Homo sapiens: one gene and its partners. The protein of the gene in region 2 interacts with the protein of the main gene of each other region in a pairwise test. Each region holds a gene or a part of one and is shown on either strand. Other genes may lie near its edges. The genes, in order: FGD1, SH3RF1 and MAP4K3.

What was found.
Region 1: the proteins of SH3RF1 (region 2) and FGD1 interact in a two-hybrid assay, tested with the Homo sapiens proteins (one large-scale study listed by BioGRID).
Region 3: the proteins of SH3RF1 (region 2) and MAP4K3 interact in a two-hybrid assay, tested with the Homo sapiens proteins (one large-scale study listed by BioGRID and IntAct).

Annotation. Positions count from the first base shown.
Region 1 is NC_000023.11:54,468,693-54,472,345, forward strand, and holds part of FGD1 (FYVE, RhoGEF and PH domain-containing protein 1), read right to left. Parts: intron 2,796-3,653; coding exon 2,622-2,795; intron 2,069-2,621; coding exon 1,891-2,068; intron 1,766-1,890; coding exon 1,324-1,765; intron 185-1,323; coding exon 95-184; intron 1-94. UniProt on the Homo sapiens protein: Activates CDC42, a member of the Ras-like family of Rho- and Rac proteins, by exchanging bound GDP for free GTP. Plays a role in regulating the actin cytoskeleton and cell shape.
Region 2 is NC_000004.12:169,260,842-169,264,494, forward strand, and holds part of SH3RF1 (E3 ubiquitin-protein ligase SH3RF1), read right to left. Parts: intron 1-3,653. UniProt on the Homo sapiens protein: Has E3 ubiquitin-protein ligase activity. In the absence of an external substrate, it can catalyze self-ubiquitination. Stimulates ubiquitination of potassium channel KCNJ1, enhancing it's dynamin-dependent and clathrin-independent endocytosis.
Region 3 is NC_000002.12:39,290,667-39,294,319, forward strand, and holds part of MAP4K3 (mitogen-activated protein kinase kinase kinase kinase 3), read right to left. Parts: intron 2,603-3,653; coding exon 2,564-2,602; intron 2,161-2,563; coding exon 2,107-2,160; intron 1-2,106. UniProt on the Homo sapiens protein: Serine/threonine kinase that plays a role in the response to environmental stress. Appears to act upstream of the JUN N-terminal pathway.

The DNA of each region.
Region 1 (3,653 bases), on a different chromosome or scaffold from region 2:
CACAATGGTGGGATTGAACTCAGGCCCTATCACTGCCTCCTTGAAACGCACCTACAAGGTCCTGGGGCCCTCGTACCCCCAAGGGGCCACTCACCTGATCCAGGAGATGGAGCCTGGAAACGTAGGCCTTCTCAGTTTGCAGGAGCTCATTGGCAATGTGAAACACCTTTTGCTGCACAGTCAACTGGAAAGGAGAAACAGTAACCCCTGATCCATCATCCTCTATCGTAACCCTCACCCAAGCCCCCAGAATTCTTAAAACAGTTCCCATGCCACTCTAAGCCTAATACCACCCTAGGATAACCTTGACCCCCATCTCTAGATCTGTAAGTCCTTCAGCTTCATCCCTGAGTCCCCAGTCTACCATAAAGCCTACCCCTCCATTCTGATGACGTGCACTCCCTCACTCAACAACTCATTCACCCGCTCTCTCTATTCACTCAGCAGAGTGTAGTGGTTAAGCATGTGGGATGGTAAGTCAGACTTCCTGGGTTCAAATCCTAAGCTCTGCCATTCACTAGCTTGTGTAAGTTCTTTAACAGCTCTGTATTTAGGACGCCTCATCCATAAATACAGATAATAATAGAATCTATTTAATGTAGAGGCTGGTGAGAAACAAAAACAAAACCAAAACAAAATAATAATAGGACTGAAGTCCATTGGTAATGGAGACAATTAGATAATTTAATATAAATAAAACACATCAGACTACAGATTAAATGGTATATAAATGTTAATTAATCATTTATTCACCCACTCAGTACACTATCAGCAAGGGCTTGCTGAGTACCTGGGGTGTGAGAAAAGCACAAAAGTATAAGAACGTATAAAACTCATTGCCTGTTGGCCTAGTTTCCTATTCCTTAGATATATGTGTTGACTACCTGCCATGCCGGCAGTCCCTGGCTTTGGCCCCTACACTTGAGCTTGGTCCTAGCAGAGCAAGTATTCCGGCTGAGATCTAACTCAAGTGCGATGGTGCCTTCTGAAGAAATGTTAGGCTGCCCGGGCACAGAAAGGGGTCTCTGCTGCCAAGAGCCTTCATCTGCACAGCCTCGGGCCCCTGCAGGGCTCTAGCTCTTGCGCCCCTCCTCCAGCTGTTGAGAAGTCTCTATGGATGTAAGTAAGAGACTTTCCGTATTACAAATAAGGAAACTGAGGCTTATGGTAGGGAAGCAGAAAGGGAAAAGACTTGCCCAGTGTCACAGAGCTTGGAAACAAGGTCCTATTTCGAGAAATACTGAGCTAGGGGAAGAATCAAGCACAAAAGGCGCTTCCAGGTTCTCCACATGGACCTGCCTCTCGGTGAACACAGGTCAGTACCTCCACAGACTCCTGTCTCTCCATCAGGGGCACTGGGATTTCTCTGTCCTTCTCTTCCTCCTCCTCCTCGTCGTCCTCCTCCTCCAGGTCACTGTCAACCTCTTGGGAGCCAGGCCGGTGGGGGTCGGCCAAGGCAACAGGCACACTAGCCAGGGCAGGGGGCCCAGGGCAGAGGCTGTGGCTGGGGGGCCCGTCATCACTGACGAAGCAGGTCTCCTCGCTGTTGGATGGCGAGCTGATGCTATCAATGCCGCTGTCCCGGTTGGGCACCTTCTCACCGTCCCGGGGCCCAGGAGCCAGCAGAAACAGGCAGCGGGAGGCCTCACCCTCGGGGAGCTGGGGCACTGGTGGCTGCGAGGTTGGCTGTGGCAACATGACTGGCTCTGGGGGACCTGGGCTGGGGCCAGGGACTGGTCTATCCGAGGCGACAATCACAGGCTCTCTGAGGTGGGTGGTGGACACACATGGAAGCAGGGTATGAGCTTGACTGAGAGGCCTCTCCTGACTATCCCTTCCTGTCCCAGGCTCCCCCTTTCCCCTAGAGGGTGCCCTAGGGACCAGACTCACCTTTCAAACTTCTCAATCAGTGAGGATACTGCTGCAGAACTGGGGCTGGCCTCTGCCCTGGGAGCCAGGCCCTTGGCCACTCGGGGGTCGGCAGGCAGTGGGCGTGATGGTGGAGGGGGGATGGGCTCCAGTGGGGGGGGCATCCGGGGCATCTGCAGGTAGCTGGGCTTTGGGGGCACTGGAGAGACGAATGGGGAAGAGAGAAGGGAGACATCAGTGAGCTGGATTTGAGCCTGGCTAACATGGTGAAACCCCATCTCTACTAAAAATACAAAAATTAGCTGGGCATGGTGGCACGTGCCTGTAGTCCCAGCTACTTGGGAGGCTGAGGCAGGATAATTGCTTGAACTCAGGAGGCGGAGGTTGCAGTGAGCCAAGATCATGTCACTGCACTCCAGCCTGGTGACAGAGTGAGATTCTGTCTCAAAAAAAAAAAAAAAAAAAGCTGGATTTGGAGGTGGCTGGCTGTCATGGCCAGGCCACAACCCCTTCCACAAACACCAATCTGCACCTTTGCCTGAGGTAGACACAAAGGGGCTAAGGTGAGATCACAGTATGCACACATTAGCCTCAGGCCACAGCACTCTGTGCACTAGGTAGGTAGCACTGCCCTGGGAGCATGGTGGCTCCCTATCCTTCTAACAAACCCTCTTCTCTGCCACTGGCTAACTTCTCCCCTCCTCTGTACCCTCCCCTGGGCCACTTCTCTGCTCTTTTCCAGGACCACTTACCCTGTGGCTTCGGGCCCGGTGCCCGCTTCAGTGGTGAAGGACGCTGGCTAGGGGTTTCAGTCGGGGGACCTGGGTCTGAGCGAAGCCGCTGGGGACCTTCTGGATGAGGCTCTAGGCTTTGGCCAGGGTCAAGGGACAAACTTTTAACCAGGATCCGGTTTCCCTGGTGCAGCCCTGCAGGAAGGGAGAAAATGGGTGTGAAGTAACTGACTTTAACCCAAAGGGGACTGGGGTTAAAGTTAGGACTGGCATGTCTTAGCAGCTATCTGGGGTATTGGGTTTCTCTGAGCCCCTTTCCTGGCCACAGTGTTTTTCTGGGAAGCCCCTATCCTAGCCCTCAGATGGAGAGCCAGACCCAGGGCTGGGGCTGGCTGTTTTCATCAATAGATAAGAATTCTTTGTGACTAGTGCATTGATTCCATGTATGTCAGCAGGCAGTATCACTAGGGAGTTTAACCAGGCTGGGGGTGGCTGTGAGCACCCTAAAGTTTATACATGCGTTTGCAGCCCTTGTTTCTACAGCCACATAGGTATGCTGAGTATAAACCATTCTTCAACGCTTTTGTTAAGGCCCTGAGAATATCTAGACTTTCTTGTTTACAATTTTGTGCAGCTAAGTGTGCTTAAAAATGATGAAATTGTGTTTCATGAGCAAGTTTTGCTTCTTGAAATCCCAACTTCTGGCTGGGCACAGTGGCTCATGCCTGTAATCCCAGCATTTTGGGAAGCTGAGAAGGGAGGATTGCTTGAGCTCAGGAATTTGAGATGAGTTTGGGCAACAAAGTGAGACCCTGTCTCTACAAAAAATATAAAAGTTAGCTGGGCAGTGTGGTGTGCACCTGTATTCCCAGATACTTGGGAGGCTGAGGTGGGAGGATCACTTGAGCCTGGGAGGTGGAGGTTGCAGGGAGCTGAGATCACCCCACTGCACTCCAGCCTGGACAAAAGAGCAAGACGCTGTCTCAAGAAAAAAAAAAAAAAGAAGAAAAATGAAAAAGAAAATCCCAACTTCTCAGCAATCTGTACTACCTT
Region 2 (3,653 bases):
TTATGTAGCTCTACAGCCAAACACTACATCCACTTTATAATCTTTTCGGTATCTTTTCAGTAACTTTGGTTCTCATCATCCCAAATAGAAATGAAATTAAATATACAGCTAAGGATCCCTAGAGAGGTTGGTACTCCACTCACTTATTCACTCATTTATTCAACAAACCTCTTGTGAGTGTGTACTCTGTGCCAGACACTACAAAGGGCTCTGAAAAGTCAAAGATGGACCAAACTCAGCCCCCTCACCAGCCCCATTCCCACAACCACTCTGCATGGAGCTTAGGTCCCTATGGCTCCGCATCTTTGAGCTGAAGAAATGAAGCCCAGAGAAACCCCACAGCCAGCCCATGGCAGTGTTGGAACCAGAGGCCACAACTTCTGACCTCCAAACCACACTCTTCCCCATACATCAAGCTAAGGAGAGTCTGCTTTCCTGGTCCACTGTCATTGTAAAGGAGCTTTATTTGTCCTCTTTTTGTCAAAACAAAATAGGAAGCAAGGACAGTGAGGAAAGAATAACCTCTGCCAGCTGCAACTGAGAAAAGATTCCCCTGCTAAAAGCAACATGAGGTCCCAGGGAAAATGTTTGTCACTTAAGTCAACTGCAGGTAAGGGAAGGAAGCATTTGGGATCAGAAATTGGACAAGTTATTTAAAGTCTTTCAGCCACCCCTCCTACATCCATGAAATAAGAATAATAATGTATAGTGAGCCGTAAACACTCCAACTGCACTCCAACCTGGGCAGAAGTGAGACCATCTCAAAAAAAAAAAAAAGAATGCATAATAGCTTCTTATAGATCAATGTGAGTAGATACGGAAGCTATCCAAGTTTTATCATTAAATTAAAAACCACAAGTTGCAGAACTGCATATACAATGTGATTCCATTTCTATTCAATTTTTTGTCTGAAAGAAAACACAAAAAAACCTTGTGACAGTGGTTACCCCTAGAGATTAGGAACAAAGGAGTAGAGATATTGGAAGCCTTGATTTTCTCCTTTACATCATCTTCTACTATTACATTTCTTACCATAAGCATGTATTATTTTTAATTCTTAAAACAAAGAAAAATACTATGAGTATTTTTCTTACACTGAGTATTTTTTAAACAGAAAGAAAAATGCTATGAGAAAAATACTATGAAGAAAAATTCTATGAGTAAAAATACTATGAGAAAAATACTATGAAAAATTAAATGAATGGTACACATAATTAGTACACTTTTCTATGTGTATATTATACATCAATAAAGAGTTTTTTCAAAAACTGGAGTAGGTCTATGTGCTTAAACATGAAGAGATTTCATAGATATAGTAAATGAATTAGCAAATCATTGAATCTCCAGAGCATGAAATTCTAGTTCTGCAAAAAATCAAGAAACTATATGCATACACATATAAATGTATATGAAAAGATCTGCAAGTATATACACACTTAATAACATATTCTTCTATATGGTTGAATTTTTTTTTACAACCAGAATGCTTTTACATACATTTTGAAATCTACATTCTTTCTCATTTTAAAAATGATAACACTTAGGCTGGGTGCCGCAGCTCACGCCTGTAATCCCAGCACTTTGGGAGGCTAAGGTGGGTGGATCACTTGAGGTCAGGAGTTGGAGACCAGCCTGGCCAACATGGTGAAAACCCACCTCTACTAAAAGTACAAAAATTAGCCAGGCATGGCGGTAGGCGCCTGTAATCCCAGCTACTTGGGAGGCTGAGGTGGGAGAATCGCTTGAACCCAGGAGGCTGAGGTTGCAGTGAGCTGAGATCTCACCATCGCCCTCCAGCCTGGGTGACAGAGTGAGACTCTGTCTCAAAAAAATAAATAAATAAAATGATAACACTTGACCCCAGAAAGCTGTTGTGAGGTTTACATGATTATGGTTACATGACACTTTATGTGATATAAAAAAGAATCATTACTTTTTTAAAAAAATTATCAATTAGTATGCACCACAGACCCCCTTTCCCATACCTTCCTTCTACCCTGTTCAAGATCTCATCTCCGAGTCTCACCATCAAGCCTAGCTCAGGAATGAAGTAAAGGTCAGGGATGGGGCAGACATGAAGCCTGGAGTAAGGATCAAGGATGGATAAAATAAGAGGTCAAGCATGCAACAAACATGGTTTAGCCAAAACAAACAAACAAACAAAACCCACCTTTTCCGTTTTAATTCAATCATTCTGAAACACACAGAAACATTTCCCTCATCCAAACCACCACATTAAATGTCTTGCTTGGGTCCGGTATGAGTTAATACACATCCCCATCCCCATCTGTGCGAAGACAACAACTCCTTTGTCCGTCAGTGTTTGTAGTGAACCTTACACGCCAGGGGAGCATGTCCCAACCACTCTGGTCCACACTTGGTATTCTTTGACCATGCACTTAATCCAAGGACCACGAACTACAAAAAAGAACCCCATCATAGATAGAGACTTATTCTATATCTTATCCCACCCCCTGATGCTTCACTATCTGCTGCCTTACTTGTTGTTTCTTGTGTGTTACCTCCCCCAAATGTAAACTTTTTCAACAGAAACATGCATTAATGTCATCTTTGACCTAGTATAGATTATTGAACATAACTGGACCTGAAAGCTCTCTACAGGTGCTTGTTCATAGATGGATGTCAAAGATGTCCCACGGCACAGTTCACAGCTGGCAGTTGCTTTCCACACCAAACCTGGAGCAACTCAGTTGTCCTAACTTTCTCCCACTACTTCCTTCAATTCTTTCTGCCAATGCCATTCCTTGGAATAAAGCCTAGAATGCCTTACTAGGGTGCTACTTAGCCCTGGAAAGCACCAAGTAAGGATCTGTATCTGGTTTGTCCATCATTACCTATCCCTTGAGTAATGCCTTAGGTACTACTGAGTCCTGGAAAGCACTCTCTCCAGACTCCAGCTACAGATCAATCCAATTTGTCAGAGATAAGAAAGTAGTAGTTTTCCCCTCTCAATATTTCCTTCATTTCCTCCAGAACTTTCTGTGCATCTGGTATACTGTCACATAAACTTCAACTTCCTTATAACATGCCTGTCTATTTTAAGAAATTATGCCAGGCAATGTGGGTAGTTGAGGGAGTAGGGAGGGGCTGAACAACTTCTCAAAGGTATTCCATGACAGAACACAGAAGGCTGGACCACTGCCAGTTTCTGGGGAAACCAGGACTGAAGGGATTGGCAGTGGACCGAGAGGCCACTCAAGGGGCTGACCTTTAGGAGTATGTCTACAGTCAGAGTACAAGTTGGCTAGGGCTACTACATCCAAGGGCACAGACTGGGTGGCTTAAACAACAAAAATGTATTTCCTCACAGTTCTGGAGGCTGGAAGTCCAAGATCAAGGTGTCAGTGGGGTTGGCTTCCTTTGAAGGCAACTCTCCTTGGTTGGTAAGTGGCATCTTCTCCATGTGTCTTCACATGGTCTTCCCTATGTGTCTGCATCCTCATCTCCTCTTCTTATAAGAACACTGGTCTTACTGGATTAGGGCCCATGCATGTGACCTCATTTTACCTTAACCCCCTCTTTAAAGGTCCTATCCCCAAATATGGCCACATTGTGAGGTACTAGGAGTTAGAACTTCAACGTAGCAATGTTGGGGGACATAATTCAGCCCCTAACAGTCAGCAACAGGGAAA
Region 3 (3,653 bases), on a different chromosome or scaffold from region 2:
AAAGGGGACGAAAGGGAGAGATTTGTTAAAGAATACAAAATTACAGTTATGTAAATACTTACAGTATGTAAGTATTACTACTCTCTTATACCACTGTAGGATGACTATAGTTAACAATAACGGGCCGGGCGTGGTGGCTCACGCCTGTAATTCCAGCACTTTGGGAGGCCGAGGTGGGCAGATCACGAGGTCAGGAAATCAAGACCATCCTACCATCGTGGTTAACATGGTGAAACACCATCTCTACTAAAAATACAAAAAAATTAGCCAGGTGTGGTGGCGGGTGCCTGTAGTCCCAGCAGGAGAATGGCATGAACCTGGGAGGTAGAGCCTGCATGCAGAGAGCTGAGATCACACCACTGCACTCCAGCCTGGGTGACAGGGCAAGACTCTGTCTCAAAAAACAAAACAAAACAAAAAACCAATAATGTGTTATTTAGTTGCAAATAGTTAGAAGGAGGATATTGAATGTTCCAACACAAAGAAATGATAAATGTTTGAGATGATGGATATGCTAATTACCCTGATCAGATCACTACATTATATGTATCAAAACGTTACTATGTACCACAGAAATTTGTATTATAATTATTTCAGTTAAAAGAATTAAATTCAATTTAAAAAGAAGTAATTGGGTAATACACTTTCTTGGTTCCAAGTACTATATTGTAATTAAAACTGGGAAAGATAATTATAATTCCAGTTTATATCAACTGAAAGGTAAATAATTAAGAACATAAGCCACATCTGGCTTATGAAATAAATGATACAGTATAAAATATATCACATTGTAAACTTCATTTTTGCTACTGTTAGATATGAAACATCTTTGATGAAGCTCATCAAAAACTATATATATGCTTTATGAAATTATATGCAGAATGTGACTGAAGTTAGGATTCATTATAACTCAGGATCAGTTTTAGAAACAGAAAGAGGCTGGTCACAGTGGCTCATGCCTGTAATCCCAGCACTCTAGGAGGCTGAGGTGAGCAGATTGCTTGAGCTCAGGAGTTCGAGCCCAGCCTGGACAACATGGTGGAAACCCATCTCTACCAAAAAATAGAAAATTAGGAAGTGTGGAGGTGCAGTCCCAGCTACTCAGGAGGCTGAGGTGGGAGGACTGCTTGAGCCAGGAGGTCGAGGCTGCAGTGAGCCAAGATCACACCACTGCACTTCAGGTGGGCCACAGAGCAAGCAAGACCCTTTCTCAAAAGAAAGAAAGAAAAAATTGTAATATGATGAAGCACAAATGTCTCAGATGAGGATTTCAAGGCCTAGAAAGTTTATGTAACTTTACCCAAGATCAACCTATGCCCTCAACTGCTACTCAAGTGCTCTTATCATTTTACCATGAAACTGCATCTTTATTAAAAAAAAAAAAGTAAACATCAATGCATACATAATAGTAAAAATATTCCTCCTTTAAAACTATATATTTACATCCAAAGTATTTGTTCACTTGAAATATAACAGATTAAAATTTAATCAAATTTATAATAAGCTTCTTTGTAGTTGTAGTAAAATTACAGCAGCTATCAATCACTGATAAATCTACAATAAAAAATTATTGTCCTTTGGAAAAAATGGACTGAAATGTGTCACTATAAAATTCACATGTTGAAGTATTAACCCACAATGTGATTATATTTAGAGATGGGTTTTTAGGAAGTAATTAAGCTTAAATGAGGTTGTAACAGTGGGATCCTAATCCTATGGATTGGTGATCTTACGAGAGAGAGAGATCACTCTTACCCCTGATCCCACCATGTGCATACACTGAGGAAAGGCCACGTGAAGACATGGCCAGAAGACGGCTGTCTGCAAGCCAAGAAGGCAGCCCTCACCAAGTTGGTTGGTACCTTGATCTTGAACTTCCCACCTCCAGAACTGTGAGAAATAAATTTCTGTTGTCTAAGTCTATGGTATTTTGTTATGTCAGCCCAAGTTAATGTAACTAGAATAGAAAAAAGGAAGGAAACTGAGATACAACCCATGATATTGTGTTACTGATATTGAAATTTCCATCAATATTAAGCTGCCAGATTGATGAAATCAGGTCAAATGACACCTTTTCTTTTTACCAAAAACAGAGACAGAACTTACTGTTTAGATTCATCATCATCTCCTTCATCATCTTCTAAATGTGCGACGTGTCCTCTAAATAAAAAGGATAATGTCATTGTTATTAAATGGATTTTACCAAAACAGTAAGAAGAAATTTTAGAAAATGCAGGAAAAGCTACTGTAAGATAAAATTTTATTTCTGCATCTTTATAGGATAGGATAGATTCAGAATTAAAACAAGGAACTGGGAGCGGTGGATCGTGATGTCCGTTACTAGGGAGGATGAGGTGGAAAGATCGCTTGAGCCCAGGAGTTCAAGGCTGCAGTGAGCTATGATCATACCACTGCAATCCAGCCTGGGCAACAGAGCGAGACCCTATCTCTATTAAAGAAAAAAAAGACAACGCAAACAAATAGGCTACATAACAGAGAAGAAGGCAAACTGACTTTACTTGTCTGTGACATAAAGTACTTTAAGATTAAAAATTAAAATTACCGCTGATGCAATTCTTCTTCAACAGACTTGAGAAGACTCCTTAAAAGAAAAAACAAAAACAAAAAATAATGTGAATAAATTATCAAAGGAATATCGAATGTGTTTTTATCATTTTAACCTTAACCATACATTTTTTGAATGATTACTTTTTTACCATTTACTGAAAATTTGCTAGTGATCACCTCTGCAACCATAAAACATCAAGTTATATTTAATAAAATACCTCTATTTTCCTGTTGCCAATGTCTTTATATATGTATTTTAAATGAACAAAATAAATCCTAATATTTATTGAAAAATACCAATTCAAACAGAAGACAACTCACCATGGAATGTCACAACAGTACTGACAAAACAATAATTGCAGGGTCATAGCCAGGAGTCTCCAGGATTCAAATTTTACCTGGAATTTTATACCTGACACCTGAAATTATATATACTTTCTTTTTCTTAAAATAAGGAAGGTGACACACTTCAAAATAACATCATGCTCTCAGGCAATCCTACAAAATGAAACTCACCATGTTGGATCTCTCTGCAGAAGCATGCATGCATGTGATGTGAATACATGAATGTAGTAGCACTTTGCTTTCACGGAAGACACTCACTTACCTGAAGGATTTGTTCTCCAGTGGTGCACGGGCAAACACATTTACACTTTTGGGAGACTAAGCCTGTATCAGACCAGGTCGAGGATTTTACCATTAGGAGCAGTATACAAAACTTTAATTTTCAGGAATGTAAGAGAGAACTATGGCATTCCTGAAGTTCCCTTACTTCTTTTTACCGCAAGTTCATGCAGCATACCTCCTAAATTACACTCTTCGAGCATAAAGACTCGATAGACTTCTCAAAGCTAATAGGGGAGATAAATATAGTTACTAATATACTACTGGGATAAAAGAGAGTCAGCAAAAGTTTTACTCTCCCTAAAAGTTATCAGGTAGCACCTTTTAATTATTTTCCCTCCTAATACATATCAGGAAAAACTGCCCTTAAAATTACAAAACATAAAACTAGAGAAACTGAAAGGTATGGTTATCTACTGTAAGCAATTAACAGAATAGGTTTTAGGCATCAATATTTTAAT